Linked DNA regions of Homo sapiens. The protein of the gene in region 3 purifies or fractionates together with the protein of the main gene of each other region. This does not show direct contact. Each region holds a gene or a part of one and is shown on either strand. Other genes may lie near its edges.

Region 1 (7,026 bases), on a different chromosome or scaffold from region 3:
TGTATTTTTAGTAGAGACGGGGTTTCACCATGTTGGCCAGGCTGGTCTCGAACTCCCGACCTCAGGTGATCAACCTGCCTTGGCCTCCCAAAGTGCTGGGAAGCCAGGCGTGAGCCACCACGCCCAGCCTGACTCCTCATTTTATAGGAACACAGCAAGCACGGGGAAGTTAACAGTAAAAAACACTCCAATGACTTCTCTGCTGTTTTTGCTGAAATGAGCCGGCGCTTCCTATCTAGATGCCTGAAACTAGTACATTTCCATGCCACTGCCACACACGAGCTGTCAAGAACTGAGTGGCTTAACCCGGAGCAGCGAAGATACATACCGTCTACGTGCAATTTTCTTTCTCAAAAACATAACAACCTGTGGCAGGAAAATTATCACCAAGCAAAGCTGAACTGCTTCTGCCCCCAGCCCCAGAGAAGAAAGCAAACACACCCAGGGAGAATCGCAGTCCCCATCCCAGGAGGAATTGTTCTAATGCATAGAATTGAACAGCAAATTTCCTAAAACATAAGCCTTCAAAGATATGATAAATGTGGCCGGATGCAGTGGCTCACGCCTGTAATCCCAGCACTTTGGGGGGCCAAGGCCGGCAAATCACTTGAGGCTAAGAGTTTGAGAACAGCCTGGCCAACACGGTGAAACCCCGTCTCTGCTAAAAATACAAAAATTAGCTGGGCATGGTGGTGCACGCCTGTAGTCCCAGCTACTGTGGAGGCTGAGGCAGGAGAATTGCTTGAAGTCAGGAGACAGAGGGTGCAGTGAGCCAAGATCATGCCATTGCACTCCAGCCTGGGTGACAGAGACTCTGTCTCAAAAAATAAAATAAAAAATAAAGATATGATGGATGATAAAGTGGCCAGGAATGGGTTCCCACTACCTGAACTCCAGTTGATAACGAAGATGCCTCACCTGACAGGTGATGCAATACAACCAGTGGAAGCCGCCAATCAGATTCCAACCCTGCTGCTAATGAAACTGCTGTAGGGTCCTAGGCTTAGTACCTGGGTGACAAAATAATCTGTACAACAAACCTTCGTGACATGAGTTTACCGGTGTAACAACCCTGCTCATGTACCCCTGAACCTAAAATAAAAGTTAAAAAAATGAAAAATAGGCCCGGTGTGGTGGCTCATGCCTGTAATCCCAGCACTCTGGGAAGCCGAGGCAGGCAGATTACCTGAGGTCATGAGTTTGAGACCAGCCTGGCCAACATGGCAAAACCCCATCTCTACTAAAAATACAAAAAATTAGCTGAGTGTGATGGTATGCGCCTGTAATCCCAGCTACTCAGGAGGCTGAGGCAGGAGAATCACCCGGGAGGTGGAAGTTGTGGTGAGCCAATTGTGTCATTGCACTCCAGCCCGAGCAACAAGAGCAAAACTCCATCTCATAAAAAGAAAAAGAAAAAAAGGGGAGGGGAGGCTGGGCACGGTGGCTCACGCCTGTAATCCCAGCACTTTGGGAGGCTGAGGTGGGCAGATCATGAGGTGAAGAGATGGAGACCATCCTGGCTAACACGGTGAAACCCCGTCTCTACTAAAAATAAGAAAAAAAATTAGCCAGGTGTGGTGGCAGGCGCCTGTAGTCCCAGCTACTCAGGAGGCTGGGGCAGGAGAATGGTGTGAACCTGGGAGGCAGAACTTGCAGTAAGCCGCGATTGTGCCACTGCACTCCAGCCTGGGCGACAGAGCGAGACTCCGTCTTAAAAAAAAAAAAAAAAAAGGTGGGAGAGGGGAGGGAAGGGGAGGAGGGGGAGGGGAGGGAGGGGAAAGGGGAATGAAGGAAGGGAGGAAGAAATTGCTATAGGTTAGCTGTATGATTCTGAAGACCCACCAAAAGGTGTAAGTGTCAGAACTGGACACTCCATGAAGCCAGGCTCACCTGGGAGCTCCCTGGGGCATGGCAGACCACCTGGGCAGGCTCTTGGTTGTTCCTGATATTGTCCTGTTGCTGATGAAGCAGGGCGAGGCCCGCCGCAATGTCGCTGGGCACCAGATCTGTGTCCTGGGTGGGAAACCACAATGGCCTGTCATAAAACCCAGCAGGCACCACCCCCGGGTTCCCTAAAATCCAGTCTTCTATAGTTGATAGGCATTCACGCACACACAGACATTTCTAGACACAGAGGTATGTTAAAAAGACTGCTCCTGGCAGGAGTGCTTCTCTATGTGACCTGAATATGTTTTCACATCCTGCCCTCAGACAAGTCCACTGGAGAATATAAAAATGCTATTCGTCTGTCTTAAAATTTCACTTCATGTGACTCAACTATTTTTAATCTACTTCAAATATTTTGTAAAGTGGAGAAATCAATGGATAAATTGTCCGTTTTTGTAGCAATGCACCATTTTAGCCCACGTTTATACTCTCATTTCTCAAGATGCTGGGAAGGTTTTGTTGAAACACAGTGGATGGTAGAGATTTATGAGACTAAACTCATACTCACAGGGTATGGCAAGCCTCATAAAGGACCCCAAGCTGGGAAAGCAACAGAGAGTGAGTCTTCTTAGGCCTGACATGTCCTTTTTCTCCAGGAAATGGAGGAATTAGGAATTCTCAATCACCTCCGGGTACTTGTAGCCCGTAAGAATGGACAATATACTGCCAGGTGCGATGACTCACGCCTGTAATCCCAGCACTTTGGGAGGCCGAGGTGGGCGGATCACCTGAGGTCAGAAGTTCGAGACCAGCCTGGCCAACATGGTGAAACCCTGTCTCTACTATAAATACAAAAATTAGCTGGGCGTGGTGGCAGGTGCCTGTCATCCCAGCTATTGTAGTACTCTAGCTACTCAGTACGCTGAGGCAGGAGAATCTCTCGAACACAGGAGGTGGAGGTTGTGCCAAGATGGCGCCACTGCACTCCAGCCCGGGTGACAAAACGAGACCTTGTCTCAAAAAAAAAAAAAAAAAGACAATATACTGGCCACTCAGCCACTGAGCCATCAGTTCTGCCTGTGATGTAGATTACGACATCCTCTAGAAATAACCAGCTTCTCTTCTTCCCTCTTCCAGATATCTTAAGACTAGGTTTAAGCACTTCTTTAAGTTACTGAGGGGACACGCTTCCCTCTTCCCTCTACGGAGGCTGCTGCTATGACTTGGTGTCAGGCTCCAGGACCAGCCCTGAATGGTGCCAAGTCGGATAGCACAGAGGTGGGAAGAGAGACTGGCAGGTGTGCAGGATAAGCAGAGAACTCTTCCTCCCTTACCTCATCTCAGTATGGAATTTAACAGCATTTAGCAGAGAATGTCATATAAAAAGATGACACGCTGCATGTGAAAAAAAAAAAACAAGCATTTTCAAATTGCGGAAGAACTCGCTCTAGAATGACGCTCCCTTCTGTGCTGCAATCATCTATTCAAACTGTCTTCCAAAAGTAGCATCGTCGATCATTTCCATCATGATACAAAGTGGTAAGAAGTCACTCACTATCTGATTCCAACCTCGATTCATGCCACTGCCTGTGCTTGGTATCTGCTCAACAGCAGCTGCAAATTATTCTCAAAGGGTACAGCGTCCGTTATGTGGTTCCTTACAGGCTAATCCAGCATTTTGACAGGGTAGTGAGTGGGTGTCAATACGAAGACATGTCCTATTGGGACACAGGGTCTGAGAAGGTGTGGCTCTTGCAGTTAACTGCTCCCTGGAGGGCTCATCACAGACAGAGGGTCTCCGGCCACCCCCCACACACCCAAAGACACCAGGTTCTCAAACGCGGTTTTATGGGAACAGAGGGACCGGCTCCATCAGAAGCATTTACTGAAACAGAAGAAACAGACCAAACCAGATCCCCTCGGCTTACTGAAAAGTAGGTTGAGAAAAGCTCTGCCGTACTCGAAAAAGCAACCCGAGTATGGTCGTCTTTCCCAATGCAACAGCACAAGAGCTTGATTCTGGTTTCCCACACGCTTGTAGCTGCTGTCTTGAGGCCATTAAGTAACTGGCTTGAATCATGACTATCCAGGTGGCTGGGGCCGGCAGAGGAATATGGAGCCATTTTCCCCCCAAGAGGGTCAAAGACAATGATAATGGAAACCACTGTGGCAGCGATGATGATCCAACTGCAAGACAGAGAGAGGAAAAGGCTCGGTGACTGCGGGCCCCAGCCCAGACGCAGATGTCCGGGGTCCCTCCTCCAGGTTCAGTTTCTGAGTCTCTACCACGGAGGGTTCTGTTACCGAGGAAGATGCAGCTCTCCTGGAACCTGCCTGAGGCAAGCAACTTTCTTCTAGAAAGTTCCTTATGAGGCTGGGCATGGTGGCTCACACCTGTAATCCCAGCACTTTGGGAGGCCGAGGCCGGCAGATCACGAGGTCAGGAGATCGAGACCAGCCTGGCCAACATAGTGAAACCCCGTCTCTACTAAAAACACAAAAATTAGCTGGGTGTGGTGGCACGTGCCTGTAGTCCCAGCTTCTGAGGAGGCTGAGGCAGGAGAATCGCTTGAACCAGAGAGTCGGAGATTGCAGTGAGCCGAGGAGGCGCCACTGCACTCCAGCCGGGCGACAGAGGGAGACTCCGTCTCAAAGAAAAAAAAAAAAAAGTTCCTTATGAATCAGTGGTTAACCCAGGCCCTGCCCTAACAGTAAAGGCCACAGAAGGAACAGGGAGGTGTCCGCTGGGCAGAGTTGCAGCCTGCGCCCGGATGCAGCGGGCACTTCTTCTCCATATGGCCCTGGGACCATGACATACGCCCTTCCCCTTCGGTGCCTCAGGGCTCTTCTCATGAAGGTATCACAGAGTACTCTGATAGGCCTCTCATCTATATGTTTAAATATTTCACACTGCAAGACGCCGGATTGAGGAGCACACGCAACCGGGAAATGCCCCTCCCGAAGGGGCTCTGCTGCCCCCTGGCGGTGTGACTCGAGAAACGCAGCAACAGCCCAGGTCTGATTCCTTATTTAGAACAGAGGGTGTTAAGGGGGCGGGACTGGATCATCTCTAAGATTTTTAGCCTAGAAAACACGAAAACCTTATTGTTCTAGAATATTATTCCCTGTCCCACTTCTGGACACCGTATCTCTTTTCATACCTTTAGTTTTAGTTTTTGCTCTGGTTTTGGTCTTTGGTTTTCTTCCGAATTCTTATAAGAGAAGGGTTAGGAATAAAAGACTTTAAGAAAAAAAGAAAAAAAAAAAAGAGAGAGAGACAGAAGGGAATGTAGAAAATAAAGAACCAGTAAGGAAAGAAATCTACATCAATACGTGCATAACGAAAGACGAGTTGTATTTCATGGACAAACAGTGTCTCTAAATTTTCATGAGTTACGCAGAAACTAACTCCAATTTCTAACTATTTGAGGAAGTCCGAGGGACGCTGGACTCTCTGTCATGTTAGAAGGGTTTGTTCACCTATGCCTCAAATCCACTGAAACTCAAAGAGAAGAAGGGAGATGTCACCTGACCACGACGGTTGCGATGATGCCGTTTACAACTGTCCTGTCGCACTGAACACCATCTGCCACCCAGGCAGCCCCCAGAGAGGCCCAGACCATCTCTGGAAAAAACAGCGCCAGGCGGATGTAAAGCAGCTTAGACATAGACTTCCGCGGTCCAGGGTTACAAATCGTTCCTGAAATACAAAAAACGTTCCGACTGCTCAGTTGCTTCCTCAGAGATGAAGAGCTTCCTTTTTGCAAAAATACAGCTTTTGCAGAGCATACATTTGTACTGTGCACACCCGCCTCCTGACTTTTTCTACTTATAATTGGTAATCAGCACCTAAGTCAGACAGCAAGTGAGAAAATGAGGATGGGAAACGTGACAAGAAGTCCTGGGCTCTTTTTTAAGATTTAGCAGGGATTAAAAACACTTCTGGGTTCTCACTGGGGTGACAATATAATCATGGCCCAAACTGGTATACTTCTGAGAGGAAAAAAGGGGACTATTAATAATTATGCTGGGGCCGGGCACGGTGACTCACACCTGTACTCCCAGCACTTTGGGAGGAGGCCAAGGCAGGTAGATCACCTGAGGTCAGGAGTTCGAGACCAGCCTGGCCAACATGGTGAAACCTCATCTCTACTAAAAATTAAAAAATTAGCGAGGCGTGGTGGCGGGCGTCTGTAATCCTAGCTACTTGCGAGGGAGGCTGAGACAGGAGAATCGCTTGAACCCAGGAGGCGGAGGTTGCAGTGAGCTGAGATTGCGCCACTGCACTCTAGTCTGGGTGACAGAGCAAGACTCCGTCTCAAAATAATAATAATAATAATAATAATAATAATAATAATAGTAATAATTATGCTGAGACAACAGGCACAAAACAGAACTGTCCCAGGCAAACAGGGATATATGGTCACCCAAGTTCTAACAGCCATGAAAACAAGCTCCACGTCCCTTTGAGACCTACATTGTTCTAGACACCAACCTAAAACACTTTATGTGCGTAGTTCTGTAATCCCCACAATGACTGGGTTAGTCATTATCTCATTTTACGTATGAGCAAGCAAACTGAAGCTCAGAGAGCGTAATAGCTACCATTCTTTTTGGAGACAAGGTCTCACTCTCTTGCCCAGGCTGGAGTGTGGTGGCACAATCATGACTCACTGCAGCCTCCACCTCTCAGGCTCAAGTGATCCACCCACCTCAGCCTCTCTGGTAGCTAGGACTACAGGTGCACACCACCACGCTGAAATAGGCCTCATAGTCCCATAGACAGTTGTTTTTTTGTGGGCGTTTTTTGGTTAATTTTTGTTTTTGTTTTTTTAGATGGAGTCTCACTCTGTCGCCCAGGCTGGAGTGCAGTAGTGTGATCTCAGCTTACCACAACCTCCGCCTCCCAGGTTCAAGTGATTCTCCTGCCTCAGCCTCCCTAGTAGCTGGGATTAGAGGCATTACACCTGGCTAATTTTTGTATTTTTAGTAGAGACTGGGTTTCACCATGTTGGCCAGGCTGGTCTTGAACTCCTGACCTCAAGTGATCTGCCCGCCTTTGCCTCGCAAAGTGCTGGGATTACAGGCATGAGCCACAGCACCCTACCAGGAAATAGCTTTTAAATTCAAAAAATTATC
Region 2 (7,026 bases), on a different chromosome or scaffold from region 3:
ATAATTTTAAACAGAGGATAAGAAGGACAAGCCAAATGCCCAGAAGAGAGTCCAGAAACAACCTTAAATAAATATGGGACCGTAATATATGATGAAAGTGGTGTTTGAAACCACTTGGAAAAAGGTTAGTTATTTAATTAATGCTACCAGGATACATAATTAGTCATGTGGAAAAAAAACTAAAAACATCAATATCACTCCTTAAACTAAAATAACTTCCACAGGAATCAAAATTCAAGTGTAAATTTTAGATGAAAATATATCTACATTCATATAGAGAGATAGTCTTTGAGAGAGAAACACCTATCTAAACAAGTAAATACAGAAGCCGTAATAAAAGATGTCAATAAGAGTATGTAAAAATCTAAGATTTCTCTAGGGCCTAATATAGACTATAAAACAAGCAAAGAAGAAACAGACAAGTGACAATGTGGGGGAAAATATTTGCAACAAATGTGCCAAATGGTTAATTACCATATGAAGAGTTTCTACAAGCCAAAAAGGAAAGAAAAACCAAAAAAAAAGTGCATAAGCAATTGGAAAAGGAAAAAGAAATAAAAATGGGCTATAAATTATTAAGTTACTCAACCTCATGGATAAAAAGTGCAATTTAAAATAATAAGATACCATTTTAATGTAGCAGTTTGACAAATACTTTAACATTTGCCAAACCCAACTTCCTCAATACTTGCGGGTAAGGAGAAACAGAGGCACTCATTCACTACTGGTAGGAGTGAGGAGTGGTACTCTTGAAGGAGTATTTGACAATAACTAAAAACAAATTTTAAAGTACATATTTGTTTCAATAATGATTGTAATAAAAATTAGGCATGATTTAAATGTGCAAAAACAGGGTCCAGGCAAATAAATATAATATATCCACACGATTCAACAGAATATAACAGTTAATGTGTAAGTTGTATTAAAACAAGGTGCAGAACAATAGGCTTAATATGATACCATTTGTGTAAATATTTATGAAAGATATAAACAAATCCTTGTATAGTCCTACATATTTTCTGAAAGGATGACCAGAAATTTAAGTTTGGTTGTCCCTCAAGTGCAAGACTAAAAAGCAGCATGTACTTCTTAAACTTTTTAATGCCACAAATTATATTTTTTATCATGTGCACTTTATTTTAAAAATAGAATATAAAAAGTAAACAGTGTAAATATTCCATAAACATTTGCTTTTAATTGAAACAATTACAACTAACATATTCAGAATATCTACTATGCGGCAAATTTTGTAGCAGGGGCTGGGTCTTCTAAGTATCAAGCTATAATAACTGAAGAATTCAACTGTCTTTCTACAAACACTTATTCTACATACAAATAGCTCTTTTTACACAAAGTAAGGGAATACTATTTTTCCTCTCACCTACTTACTGTCAATCCTTTCACATTAAGGAATAAATTCTCTCAAGACATACTTTCTTCCTTGAAATTATTTCACCCACTTTATTATCACACAGATAAAGAATATTGTTTTTATAAATTAAGAGTGATTTAATCATTAAACTAAGAATGAACTTAAAATGGATTAGGCTCTATCAAGAAATGTGGGTTCAGATGCTAGGTCCACCAACAAATAATATAGTAATGAATGGTTACAGTAAAGTCACATCAACTCTTCAAGCCCAGATTTCTTTGTACGTGAATATTATCAATTTCATAAGAGTGCCATATAAAGAAATTAAACATTTACATTCTTTGTATTCTGACATGAAGTGACAATAGGCATAGCCCATATTTAAGGAAAAAAAATACCAAGAGATGCCTATTAAAATTTAATGAGGAATATTACTATTACATTTATTTATTTAACTAAAGTACATACTCTAATTTGTAAACTCATCCTGAGTTCACTGAATTCAGTTATATTTTTAATTTCCTTTAAATATGTAACATGGAGTCTGTGAACCCAAAGGGCAAGGAAAGTTCAAGTTCAATAATATAAATGCTTGTGTTTTTTCCTATCATCCATTTCATTGTATCTAAGACTACCACACAGATTTTGTTGCCTAATTCATCTTTTTACTTCTACTTTTATCTCTCCTTCAAAGAATTCAAATTGTTTCTTGTTCCTACGCATGTCTTTTACTATGTACCACAATGAAAGTTATGCATGTACATATAGCTATAACAAAAATCAATTACAATAAAGTAACACTGTTTTCTTCCTGAGAAGATGGATATAAATGTTAAAATTTAAATTTTTTGTTTAATTTAAATTAAACATTTAAATTTTTTGTTTAATTTAAATTAAACATTTAAATTAAATGTTTAATTTAAAATTTTCTTTTCTCCAAATAAGCCAGGCAACATTATTATAGTCCATAATTCAAGACAGAATAACTATATTTAAATCCACAGAAACTAGCATGGTACTCTAGGAATACTACTACTTAGAGAATAATAAAGATAAAATTTAATTCCTCCCCATTTTTACATCAATCATTATACTATTTTCAAAGAGTTAAGCATTGCAACTAATAAACATCCAATAATAATACGCAAAAGAAGGGGAGTGGAGGATCAAGGAAAAACACTTCAAGATCGCAAGGTACATTTCAATCCACTATTCTGTCCATTGATATGAATAATGATCTATCTCGGAAGAAAAACACCCAAAATATTAAACTAGATACAATTTCTAAACACATTACAATGTACCACATACCAGTCAAAATAAATACTGAGCCTTTATGTTAAAGCTATTTCCTAAAAATTGTCTCTAAGAATAGAGAGCGTAGTTTCATTATCAACACTTCCAAATATTTCTTCTGTGTTTCTCTAACTTGATATTCAATTCTAAACTTTTGTTTTCAAACTTTGAATATACAAGGGGGGAAATAATGTATAAAAAATAATGTAAAAATACTGTAAGATTTTCCCTAAATGCATAACAAACATACGCTAAGTAAGGATTAGATATTAACGGAAATCTGAAGTATTATATATATATCTTTCACTTTTATAAGCCAAATAAATTCTATCACAAAATGTGACTTCTCTTTGAGTGAGTTAGTAAACTCTGTATTTTTGTTTTAACGTACCCATTTTCAGATTTTAACTACAACAGCTCCCTTAACTGACCTCTATTTAACTGTCTGGCCTTAGCCAACACTTTTTTTTTTTTTTTTTTGGCCCATGGCATGCTGACCATTCTTAACCAGTATGCTATTTTTTGTATTATCAGGTACTTCTGTTCTCACTAGTTGGGTTACATGCTTAACAAGTCAGTTGGTTGTTCCCAAACCTGTTTATGCCAGTTTACTTGTTATAGTTCTTACATATCTTAAACATTATTCATGTCTAATGACTACGAGTGCAAAAAGGAACAGTTGTTTCTATATACTAAGTTAAATGTAAACTAAGTAGGCCAGGCGCGGTGGCTCATGCCTGTAATCCCAGCACTTTGGGAGGCTGAGGTGGGTGGATCACTTGAGGTCAGGAGTTTGAGACCAGCCTGGCCAACACAGTGAAACCCCATTTCTACTAAAAATACAAAAATTAGCCGGGCGTGATGGCACGTGGCTATAGTCCCAGCTACTTGGGAGGCTGAAGCAGAAGAATTGCTTGAACCTGGGAGGTCGAGGTTGCAGTGAGCTGAGACCACAGAACTGCACTCCAGCCTGGGTGACAGAGCAAGACTGTCTCAAAAACAAAACAAAACAAAACAAAAAAACAAAAAAAGAACAACAAAATGTAAACTAAGTAGAATGACTCAACGAAGGTGAGTTATTCTTTTAAAGGGTGTTGAATTGGAGAAAAGTGATGTAACTGCAAAATATAAGGGGAAATCATAAAAAGTTAGAAGGAGCCTATACTTAGAGTTTTTCAAAAGTTATCTTCAGGCTTTTATTCCACATTAGAGAAATCAAAACTGTAAATAGCAAATCATGTGTGAGGAACATGAGAACAGCTTCTCCCAACTCCACAAAGAGATGGCATTAGCTCAATGTTAAAAAGTTTAAAAATGAATTTACATTTATATTTTTAAGTTAAAATTTTAGAATGTTACTTACAAGATGTATTATTTTTAAATATTCAGTAACCTACAAAGTAACTGTCCCAGCCTCAACAAATAAAAAGGCTTCAAACATTTTTTTTTCCTGAAGCCCTTAAACTGGTTTGATATACCCACCAGATAAAAACTACATGTCTATGCAAAATAACAATATGTAGTAAAAACCACAGTAAAATCACTTTATGGAAAAAAGTATTAGAATGTATATTCTACAAGGACAAGGATCTTTATCTTATCCACGGATGTATCCTGAACACGTAGAACAGTTCCTGGTATGTAGCTGACACTCAATAAATATTTGTTGAATGAAGAAGAAAAGGAACTTACTGTGATGACAGCCTTGCTAAGACAGATGGATCCTCTGCAGCCATACTCTGTTTCATCTTCAGATTTGTAGTAACTCAGAGCATTATTTTTCAAAACTACCCAACGATCCTGCCACCCATGAATGTAGTTTGTCCACTGGGAGTGGGAAGGGGAAGGGAAGAGAGAAGAAAACAAAAAATAGAAGTATTTTAGAAATCCAAACTTTGTGAAACAGCAATCTAATTTTAAAACCAAAACGTGAAAAGTCCAACTTAATTCTAAGCATAAACAGTAAAATGATTACAAAAAGTGAAAAGTTGAGATTTTCTAGATTGCATAATGATTTTCAGTAATTTTTACAATATTATAAATAAATCTGTAAGAAATAAAATATAACATTTTCTTCTAACATTTGAAGAATAAAACGAAAGCCAGATTTTGGTTAAAATTATTGTTTATTCTTCGTATGCTTTCATCCTCTCCTAAGTACCTTCATGATATTTGTTTTGGTCCTTGTCATAATTAACATATTCAACAGAGAAGTATGTTCAGTTATGTATGTAGTCTCTCATTCTGACACCAAAGACTGCATGAAGCCTTCTAAATCAACGGAAGTATAAAGTCAATTATTGCTAAACTCTACTTTTGTTGTTATTCCTATATGAAAATTTATAACAGCTGTAACTATATCAAAATAAAAATAATAATCTTTAGTAAGCTGGCATCAACTTTAACTTTTCCTCTACAGAACTGAATAATATTAAAAATGGCCAATACATTTTCCAAGTTCCTCTGAACATGCATTTTTCAAACTCAAGAGTAATAAAACAAAAATAAAATTGCTTTTCAAAAACATATTGGATTGTCTTCAATACCTTAAGAGTTTCTGTGTTGCTAAAGTCTTGCTGCAAAGTGAAGATCACAATAAACTGGAAAAGGCAGAAATGTAACCTTTACAGGAATACTTATTTTTGCATGTTTTTATCTATGCTCTGGGGTGTTAAGTATAGAAAAATCTCAAAAACTATCTGCCAATTCCAAAAACTAATTAAAAATGGATTGCCAAAATATACTGCATTGGCTCAGGCTCTATATCCACTGAGAAATCTTTTATTTTTCTGTTCTCTAATTAAGCATTTTTGAGATTGATTCACTTCTTAAATTTTCTTTTATTTAGTATTTTCTTGAGACAGGGTCTCGCTCTGTCACCCAGGATGGAGTGCAGTGGCACCATCTCAGTTTACCGCAATCTCCTGGGCTCAATCCTCCCACCTCAGCCTCCCAAGTGATTGAGACTACAGGTGTGCACCCCCACATCTGGCTAATTTTTTGTAGAAATGAGGTTTCGCTATGGTGCCAAGGCTCGTCTCAAACTCCTGGGCTCAAGCGATCTGTCTTCCTTGGTCTCCCAAAGTGCTGGGACTACAGGTGAGCCACCATCCCTAGCCAGTTCTTAATTTTTCTAAGCCCCATCATTACAACCACTCTCTGAGAACTCACCCAAGCCAACATTTAACTCATTCTAGTGGCTCCCAATCACCATTTCCTTATTTCTAACTGCTTGAGATGTACCACCACTTAGACACGGGCTTGAAATAAATGATAGTTACCAATAAAACTGAATTCACCTTCCTATAAAGTATACTTCCTTCCTATTTTCCTACTTCCTTGGGGAGACTGCTACTTCTGCTCAGAGTTAGTGTATTAGATATACAAACAGATTAGTGGATATAGGATAAAATAGGCTCAACTATTTTATAACTCATGTGAAGAGAGTTTTGACAAGTTACTTTTGTAAACTTCAGTTTCTTTGCCTGTTGACTGACGGCCGAATAAAATAATGAAAATGCCTAGCATAGTCACAGAAGATACTCAATACCTAAGTGTTCCTTCTCAATATTTATAGCCCATTACCAAAAGCTGCTCATCTTTCCTTCATAGTAAACCCTTAAATTTGCCTCCTCTTCTCATTTTCAACTATTCCAATCAAATTATCCAGTTCCTGTATTCCTTAGGAGACTTAATAATTTTTTCTCTAGTATCTTCTGTTTTTTTCATAATTTACACAAGCTTATTTACTTACTAAGCATATTTGCCTACTTTTCTTACATTGATCGTATTGAGTCTCTAGCTCCAAAACTTACATGGACAACTTCCCACTGACTGTCATACAAATTGTTTAGGGCATTCAAGACCCTTCATGGATTAATCCTACCTCATTTACAATTACCACACTTCATAAGGCTAAACTTTGTGACAGTGGTCAAGTTACTTATTCTCTTTGTGTTCTTTTTTTCTTTGTCAAATTCTCTTAGAGTTAAGTTTAAACAAGAATAGACTTAGAACAGTGCCTGGACATAGTATTTTCTGAATCTGAGGAAGAGTTATACATAGCTAATGAAGCTTAACCTTCAGCATTTCTCACTAGAATAGAACTCTTTCAATGTTAGAGGAGAAGCCCCAGCAATTATGTATCCATAACTTAATATTAGTTCTTATAAGAGACTGAACAAACTGTATCAGCTTCAGGACCCTTTACTCAGTAAGTATTAGCTGTATCATGACACCTGGAAGACAAGTTTTTTGTCTTTTCTCTGCTCTCATAATGTTCCCTCACTCTTCCCCATTTAACAAATACAGATAAGGCAATATGCTAGACACTGCAGGGGAATCAAATATTACTGTGG
Region 3 (7,026 bases):
CGTCTCTCCTTTGTATACAACCACTATCTCTTCTTTGCCTGTATCCTGGTGGTGCTACTGGCCATCTTCCTATACCTTCTGCGGCTACGCCGAATTCACCACCGACAAACACGAGCCTCAGCTCCATTGGACTTGCTGTGGCTTGAAGAGGTGGTGCCCATGATGGGAGTACAGGTGGGGCCGTGAGGCTGGACCAGGACTAGAGAAGCTTGAGCACCCCCGAGTTGCTGCTCATTGAATTCCTCCACTTTCTTATATAGCCTCAGATGCTGTGATGTCTGACCTTGTGGATATTTGCCCTTGGAATTTCTACTTTACTTTCTACCGTAATTCCTTCTCCGTACCCAGGTCTTCTCTGAGAGAAGCTATAATTTAATCTGTGAGGAACTAAATGACAGGAGATTGGTGCTAATACGGGGGACCAAGCTTTGTCCAAGTGAAGCAGGCTTCGACTCCTTCTGAGAGGTCTGGTGTGTTCCTAGAATCTCACCTTTTCTTCCCTTGCTAAAGCATGAAGTTTGGCATTTGGCACACTGGAAGCCTGGTTGAAATGAAATTTGTAGCATCTGATACAAAGCCAGAGACATTCTAGCAAGTGCAGCAGCCCCTTCTTTCTCTGTAACAGAGATATCATTTATGTGGAGATCCACAACCTTTAACAGGGATCCAAGATCTTTGCAGTTCAATCGACCACATAGGAATTTCCAGGCACCAAAATGATATAACTTCCTTGCTTCCTTGACAAAGAAGCCATCATGGGTGTGATCCAAGATCCCTGTCGTAGTGTTGATGATGTTAGTACATGATTTTAAAGGTTAGAACCCCTTCTAAATGAATGGTCTGTGGAAGATTTTAGTATCTTATCTGATGCCTGGTATGATGAGGATAGAAAATTTTTCCATTTTTATGTGCCTCACAGGCTGTTTGGGCATTAATTTTGCTTTTTGAGCCTTAAGTGTGTTAGTAGGATGGAGAAACTGTGATGGGGACTGGGAACCTGGATTTGTCTGATTTTAGGTCACTGTTCCCTGGGCCTGTTTTTGTGAGCCCTTACACAGGAAGATATAAAGAGAGTTCTTTCATTTCACTGCTAAAATCAGTATGTAGTATGGGGAATGTATTTGGGTTGTTTTTAAAGAAAAGGGGAACAGAATCAGGAGAGTGGGCAAAGGCAATAAAATCAAAGTTCTTATTAATTATTTCTGAGAAATAGAAGTTTCTCAATTTATGACTCTTGGAATGTCTGAAAGGGAGCAAATTTGGAATAGATCAATCTGTTAATAAGCCATCTGGCAACTTTCAGAACCTCTATTAAGAGACTGCTGAGTCACAAACAGCACTTCCATTAATGAAGCGAGAGGAAAAGCCATAATAATTACATCTTCACCCACTACCCTTCCAGAGCTTTGCTTCTCCTCCACATTTAGCCATTAAATTGCATGAGGATTTCTCTTCATCAGGGTCCGCATGGAATCTTTCTTATATTTTACCCTTTCCTACATGTAGCCTTGAATGTCCTTTCCACGAATATGCTCCCACGGCTGGGAGCATTTTCTTTTCTTTTCGTCACCTTTGATTTTTGGGATTAGATTAATAGGGGAAAAAGTCCCTGGCTTTAAAGAAAACAAAAGTAGAATTCTTCAAAAATAAATTTCATACTGGGAACAGAAAGGAACTAAATGCTTCATAAAACAGGGAAAAAGAAATTAAGATCATCCTAGAAATAAACTAAGATAAAAATAAGTATACTGACCCTTGGTTGGTAGATAAAAAGATGACCAGTCTTGTATTGTTTTAAAATTAGATAAACATGGATTAAGCATGCAAAGACTCTGTTCCTTTTTTTTTTTCTTGGAGACAGGGCCTCACGCTGTCACCCAGGCTGGAGTGCAGTTGTGCAACATCATGGCTCACCGCAGCCTCAACCTCCTGGGCTCAAACAGTCCTCCCAACTCAGACTCCAGAGTAGCTGGGACTACAGGTGTGCGCCACCACACTCAGCTAATTTTTTATTTTATTTTTTTAGAGATGGAGTCTGTGTTGTCCAGGCTGGTCTCAAACTCTTGGGCTCAAGCAATCCTCCCACCTCAGCCTCCCAAAGTGCTGGGATTACAAGCATGAGCTACTGCACCTGCCCTCTGTTTCCTTTGGAAATCTCTTACCTTTCATTAGGGTTTCTTTCATAGCAATTTCCTTTGGTTTTTAAGACTTCTACATTGCTTTTTCTTTTATTATCTGTGCTCCGTGAACCTTATGAATGCTGCTTAAAAATAATGTCAAAATATGTTTTAGCTGCCTACTCAGGTAACGTTTTCTTTTGCTCTCATCTTGGTTTCCATATACTATTTTTGGTTTTTTGTGAGATCTAATCAATGATCTAGTCAGAAGCTACTTCACTGGCTAACAGTGATCATGTTCATGTGCTAAAAATGAACTTGAAACACGGAAGTAGTGGTTGGTCCAGTTTGAAAGCTCTTATTAGTATTCTTCATCCTGGCTGTAATAATAGCCATTATTTGTTATGCCTTTGTTATGTAGCAGACACTCTTAAGGATTTTATGTGTATTATTCAAATTGCTATTACTGTTCTTTTTATAGTTGAGAATCTCAGGATACCTACATTTATCACTTTTTCAATATATATGTATTTCTTATTCTTATTTTGTCTTGGAGTGTTTAATGTGTTATTTCCTGTTCATTACTTTAATATTATGGTATCTAGGCTTGTCTTTATTACCATGAGCAAGGTCTCCAGGAGTTCCACAGTACTGAAGGAAAATTTTGTCATATCCCTCAGAAGAACTGAATATTTATTATTGGTATGGGCTCCTTTGTTTATTCTCTTCTCCCAATTAATAGATTTTAAATGAAATCTTATTAGCTAGAAACAAAAGCCACTTACTCCTTGCTGAGAGCCAATTACTTAAATATATTTCTTCCTTATAATAAAATAATTTGCTTCTAGGAGCAGAAATCTATCTTGCCATACCCTTTGGTTTTTAAAGATTTCTCTTCTATTTGCATTTCTGCACTTTGGTGGTTCTCCCATGAAGATAATTATGGTGTCATAAAATTCACATTCCACTGGTTCCTTTGAATCTTACCAACCACTCTTGTTAACAGAGACAATGAACCTGAACTGTTTTAGGACTCTTGTTATTACTGAGACAGGTCACAAACATCAAAATAGGAGTCCGTGGCTTGTAGTGATGCTTTTTAGTCTTGTGATAGCACAATCCATCACTTTCCCCAAAATTCTTGTCATAGAACATAATGAAAAATATGTAAAATACCCATTTATGTGGCATTTCATTCACTTAAGTTGCAGTTAACTCTAAGCCAAATTATACCATTTTTTCTCTCTGTACTTTAGCTCCTTGAATTTCCTTAATCTGGGAAACTTTTGTTCCCACACCAAGGAACAAATTCAGGGGGTACAAGTGCAGGTTTGTTACATGAGTATATTGAGTGATGCTGAGGTTTGGGGTACAGATCCCATCACCAGGTGGTGAGCATAGTACCTAACAGATAGTTCTTTAATCCATGCCCTCCTCTCTCCCTCCCTGCTCTAGTAGTCCACAGTGTCTATTCTGGTCTGGGAAATTTTCATCACTTTCCACCAATCTTCTATTTATTCTCCAAATGTCTTCCAAAGTATCCTGCCCCACCCCCTCCTCATCCTAAGAGATTCCTTTAACTTCAAGATCATATCCAGTGATTGCTGAAAAATGTCTGCCATGCACTTGCTAAGCTAGTGTTTTTAGGCATTAACATTTATTATCACATCCATATTTATATTTTTGAAATAATTTATACTTCTCACTGATATCATCTAAACAGATGCTTCTCACAGTTTTATGTTTTGTTTTTTGTCAGGGATGAAAGACAAGTGAGTGGTATCACTTAAGGGAAAGAACAGTAGGCTTAACGAATAGCAGACCTGGATTCTAGTTCTGGCTTTGTCATTTACTAGCTCTGGTACCCCAGGCCAGTCACTTACCATCTCTGGTTCGGTTCTCATCTATCAAACAAAGAGGCTAGACAAGATTAGAAACTAAAGGCAGAAGACAAGGTAGAAAAATCATATGATTTTGGGAAGAGCATTTTGTCCTTTGGTTTAGAAGACCAGGCTGCCCAAAAGAGCCTCCTATTTTATCCATAACCCCTGATGATAAGGTTGGTGGGAACAGAGTTTCTAATAGTAATCATAATAAATTTCAGAAGAGTTTTAAAGCTTCTGGTCAACCCCCTTGATTTATATGGGTGATAAAACTGAGGCCTAGAGCAGTTGTAATATGTGCAAAGTCATAGTGACTGGCCTCCTAGCCCAACTACTTTGTCAGCTACAATGAAATGCTCATTAACAGAATCTTTCTGCAAGTATAAACAGAATCTATTTTTTATAAAACAGCTGGCCACAACTAACCATGCCCCATCTTTACAACTGCTTCTGACATTCATTTATGACTGCTTTGCTCACATTTAGGAATAAACTTTGAAAAAAATACTTTGTCAGAAATAGTGCCAAGTTTTCACTACATCTATTCTTGTTCCTGTATTTCTTTTCGTACTTTTAAATTTTATACATCTTTTTAAAACAATTTTATACAATTTCCTTTACTACAACATCCAAGCAATTCATTAGATGACTACAGCCTAGATGAAGGTATAAATGCCTATTACATCTACCTCATTAAAGAACTTCGTTGTAATTCTTGGGCAGTTTCCAGACTCTGTTACAGAAACAGAGGGCTGTTTCTTTTTGTTGTCTTTAAACTTTTCAAATTAATTCAAAACTAGTATCTAATTGTCCTTTTTGCTGTGGTATGTGGTGTAATGTTGATTGGGAATAAGAATTATGGTAGAAATAGCAGATGTTTCAAATTCTCCCATATTAGTCTCTTAGGGACGCTAGCTCCAGATTCCAGCCCCTGGGGCAATAACTTGTGAGGATTTTCCTGGTGTTACAAAAAATATTGCTGTTAAAAAACTAAGACTCAAAACCAAAAGTTGTGATTAATAATAACAGGATTATTAGTCAATAATATTTTGATTAATACTATAGAATAGCAACAGTGAATATACCTCAAATTGAAAACTTTTAGGTTGTGTTCTTGGCTCATTCTCTCATAACCTGGATCTAAGTTGGAAAGCTGTGGCACCCTGTTTGGGTGTCCCATCTACCCTGTTTTCTGTTTCTGCAGATGGCTTGTTCAAGCTTCATTTTAAGCCTGCTCTGTCTACTTATCTTCCTTATATCCTAATAGACTTCTCTTGTGTTATTACACATTTCTCTTTTGCTCTAATATTTCATTATTTTCCAGTTTGTCAGTACCGTTATCAGAGGGACGAGGAAGGAATAACACACCAGTTGACCATTTTGTTTCTCTGAAAATCTGAGCAATACGGAGATCCTTTTATTAGTAAAACTGAATCATTACTCATACTACAAGGGCTTTCACTTTTAAAATGTAATCCATCATTGCTTGCCATTTTTATGAAAACCAAAGTTGAAAAGTCTTCTGAATCACAGGCTATGTATAGCCACACATGCATGACTTCAGGCTAGCATAAAGACATGTCTGCTCCTGAGCCTCTTCTTTTAAAGGGCAACCACTTGTATACCCTCTGGTGGCCACTCCTCCTTCTCCACTCCAAGGCAGCCCTGGTACTTTCCTAAGTGGCCCCTCCTACAGAGCACTTGCCGGCATTTGGCCTGCTGCTGGTGAAGACGCCCCTTACTAGCTTCATAAATGTTTTTCTGCAAGCAGGGATCCCAGACACATACTTTGGTTTCTAGTGTTTCAGTTACTATGTTGTATTTGAAATTCTCATTCCACAATTACCCTTTAGTTGAAGTCCTGAAGTACATGCCATGTACTCCCCCTTTATTTCTACCTTGATCAATGGCCTCTGCGGAGTGTAGTGAAAGACATCTTTTTATTATGATCTACACTTTAAAAAACCAAAGGCTGCCTGTATTACATTGCTTTGGGGAGTTGTTAAGACTCTGTTTTTTCTACTGCTTCACATTAAACAATAATTTTGTTGAATTTTGAATTCTTAAAATTCTCACTGACAAACATTTTAGGTCAGTGTTGAGGAAAATGTGTGATGCATGTTAGAGAGGTGATGCATTCTCCCTTATGCAGGGACATGGGTATATGTGTTACATATGCTGATATATAACCCACCATTCATCCCAGGACCACAAGGGTAGCTGTAGATAAACTGGTTATCCTAAAATCATGATTATCAGTGTTGATCTCTGCAACCAACATTGCTTTAGGGAGTTGCTAGTCATTACCCCTGCTACAATAGATAGTATTTGTCAGTCTAAGTTACAGACAAAAAATTCTAGGTTGACTGATTAAGAAAGCCATGTGTTTTAATTTCCTTCATGTTTTAAAAACAATGGACGTAAGTGCAGAGAGACCTTTGAAAATATTAAGGGAAATCTATTTAATCCTATAGGTATGTGATGACTTGTTTTTTTGGAAAAAGGTATTTGGAACATCAATCTGTAATTATCCATTTTCCATTCATGCATTCACTAATTCAATATTTGATATGTGTCTGGGAGTGCTGGGAATAACATAAATACAAAAAAAACCCTAAGATAATCATTCACCAGAAGCTCATAGATATAATACAGTTATATAGCTAAATGCAACCAGTTGTTTTTCCAAATGTACTCATCATCTGTAATAAAAGAAAAATGAAGTAAAACATCTGAAACCTTAACTTACTCATGAGTTGCTACTTCCTTGGAGGCAACTGTAGAAGCATTAATATATGGTTCTTTGGGTTGGGTCATACTGCCCTCTGCTGACTCAGTTACTAACTAAGGACAACCTGGGTTTGAGGATCAGGAGAGGATGGTGTGGGAACCTGCCTCAGGAACTACAGTTCCCTTTCTTTGAAGGATTCTATCCAGAAGAGACCATATCCTACTAACATACTAATAGGAGCAACATAGCAGATCAAATGATAAGGTGGGGTGGAAATTAGAAGGGAATGGGAATA

Evidence for each region. The genes of interacting proteins can lie anywhere in the genome.
Region 1: the proteins of ENTPD7 (region 3) and DAGLB purify together in Homo sapiens (affinity purification with mass spectrometry; 2 studies listed by BioGRID and IntAct, with this or other methods). This does not show direct contact.
Region 2: the proteins of ENTPD7 (region 3) and CERT1 purify together in Homo sapiens (affinity purification with mass spectrometry; 2 studies listed by BioGRID and IntAct, with this or other methods). This does not show direct contact.

Annotation. Positions count from the first base shown.
Region 1 is NC_000007.14:6,430,947-6,437,972, forward strand, and holds part of DAGLB (diacylglycerol lipase-beta), read right to left. Parts: intron 5,588-7,026; coding exon 5,416-5,587; intron 4,075-5,415; coding exon 3,816-4,074; intron 2,014-3,815; coding exon 1,891-2,013; intron 1-1,890.
Region 2 is NC_000005.10:75,501,622-75,508,647, forward strand, and holds part of CERT1 (ceramide transfer protein), read right to left. Parts: intron 4,496-7,026; coding exon 4,361-4,495; intron 1-4,360. UniProt on the Homo sapiens protein: Shelters ceramides and diacylglycerol lipids inside its START domain and mediates the intracellular trafficking of ceramides and diacylglycerol lipids in a non-vesicular manner.
Region 3 is NC_000010.11:99,704,498-99,711,523, forward strand, and holds the end of ENTPD7 (ectonucleoside triphosphate diphosphohydrolase 7), read left to right. Parts: coding exon 1-186; 3' UTR 187-6,744; downstream 6,745-7,026. UniProt on the Homo sapiens protein: Catalyzes the hydrolysis of nucleoside triphosphates and diphosphates in a calcium- or magnesium-dependent manner. Preferentially hydrolyzes nucleoside 5'-triphosphates, with substrate preference for UTP > GTP > CTP.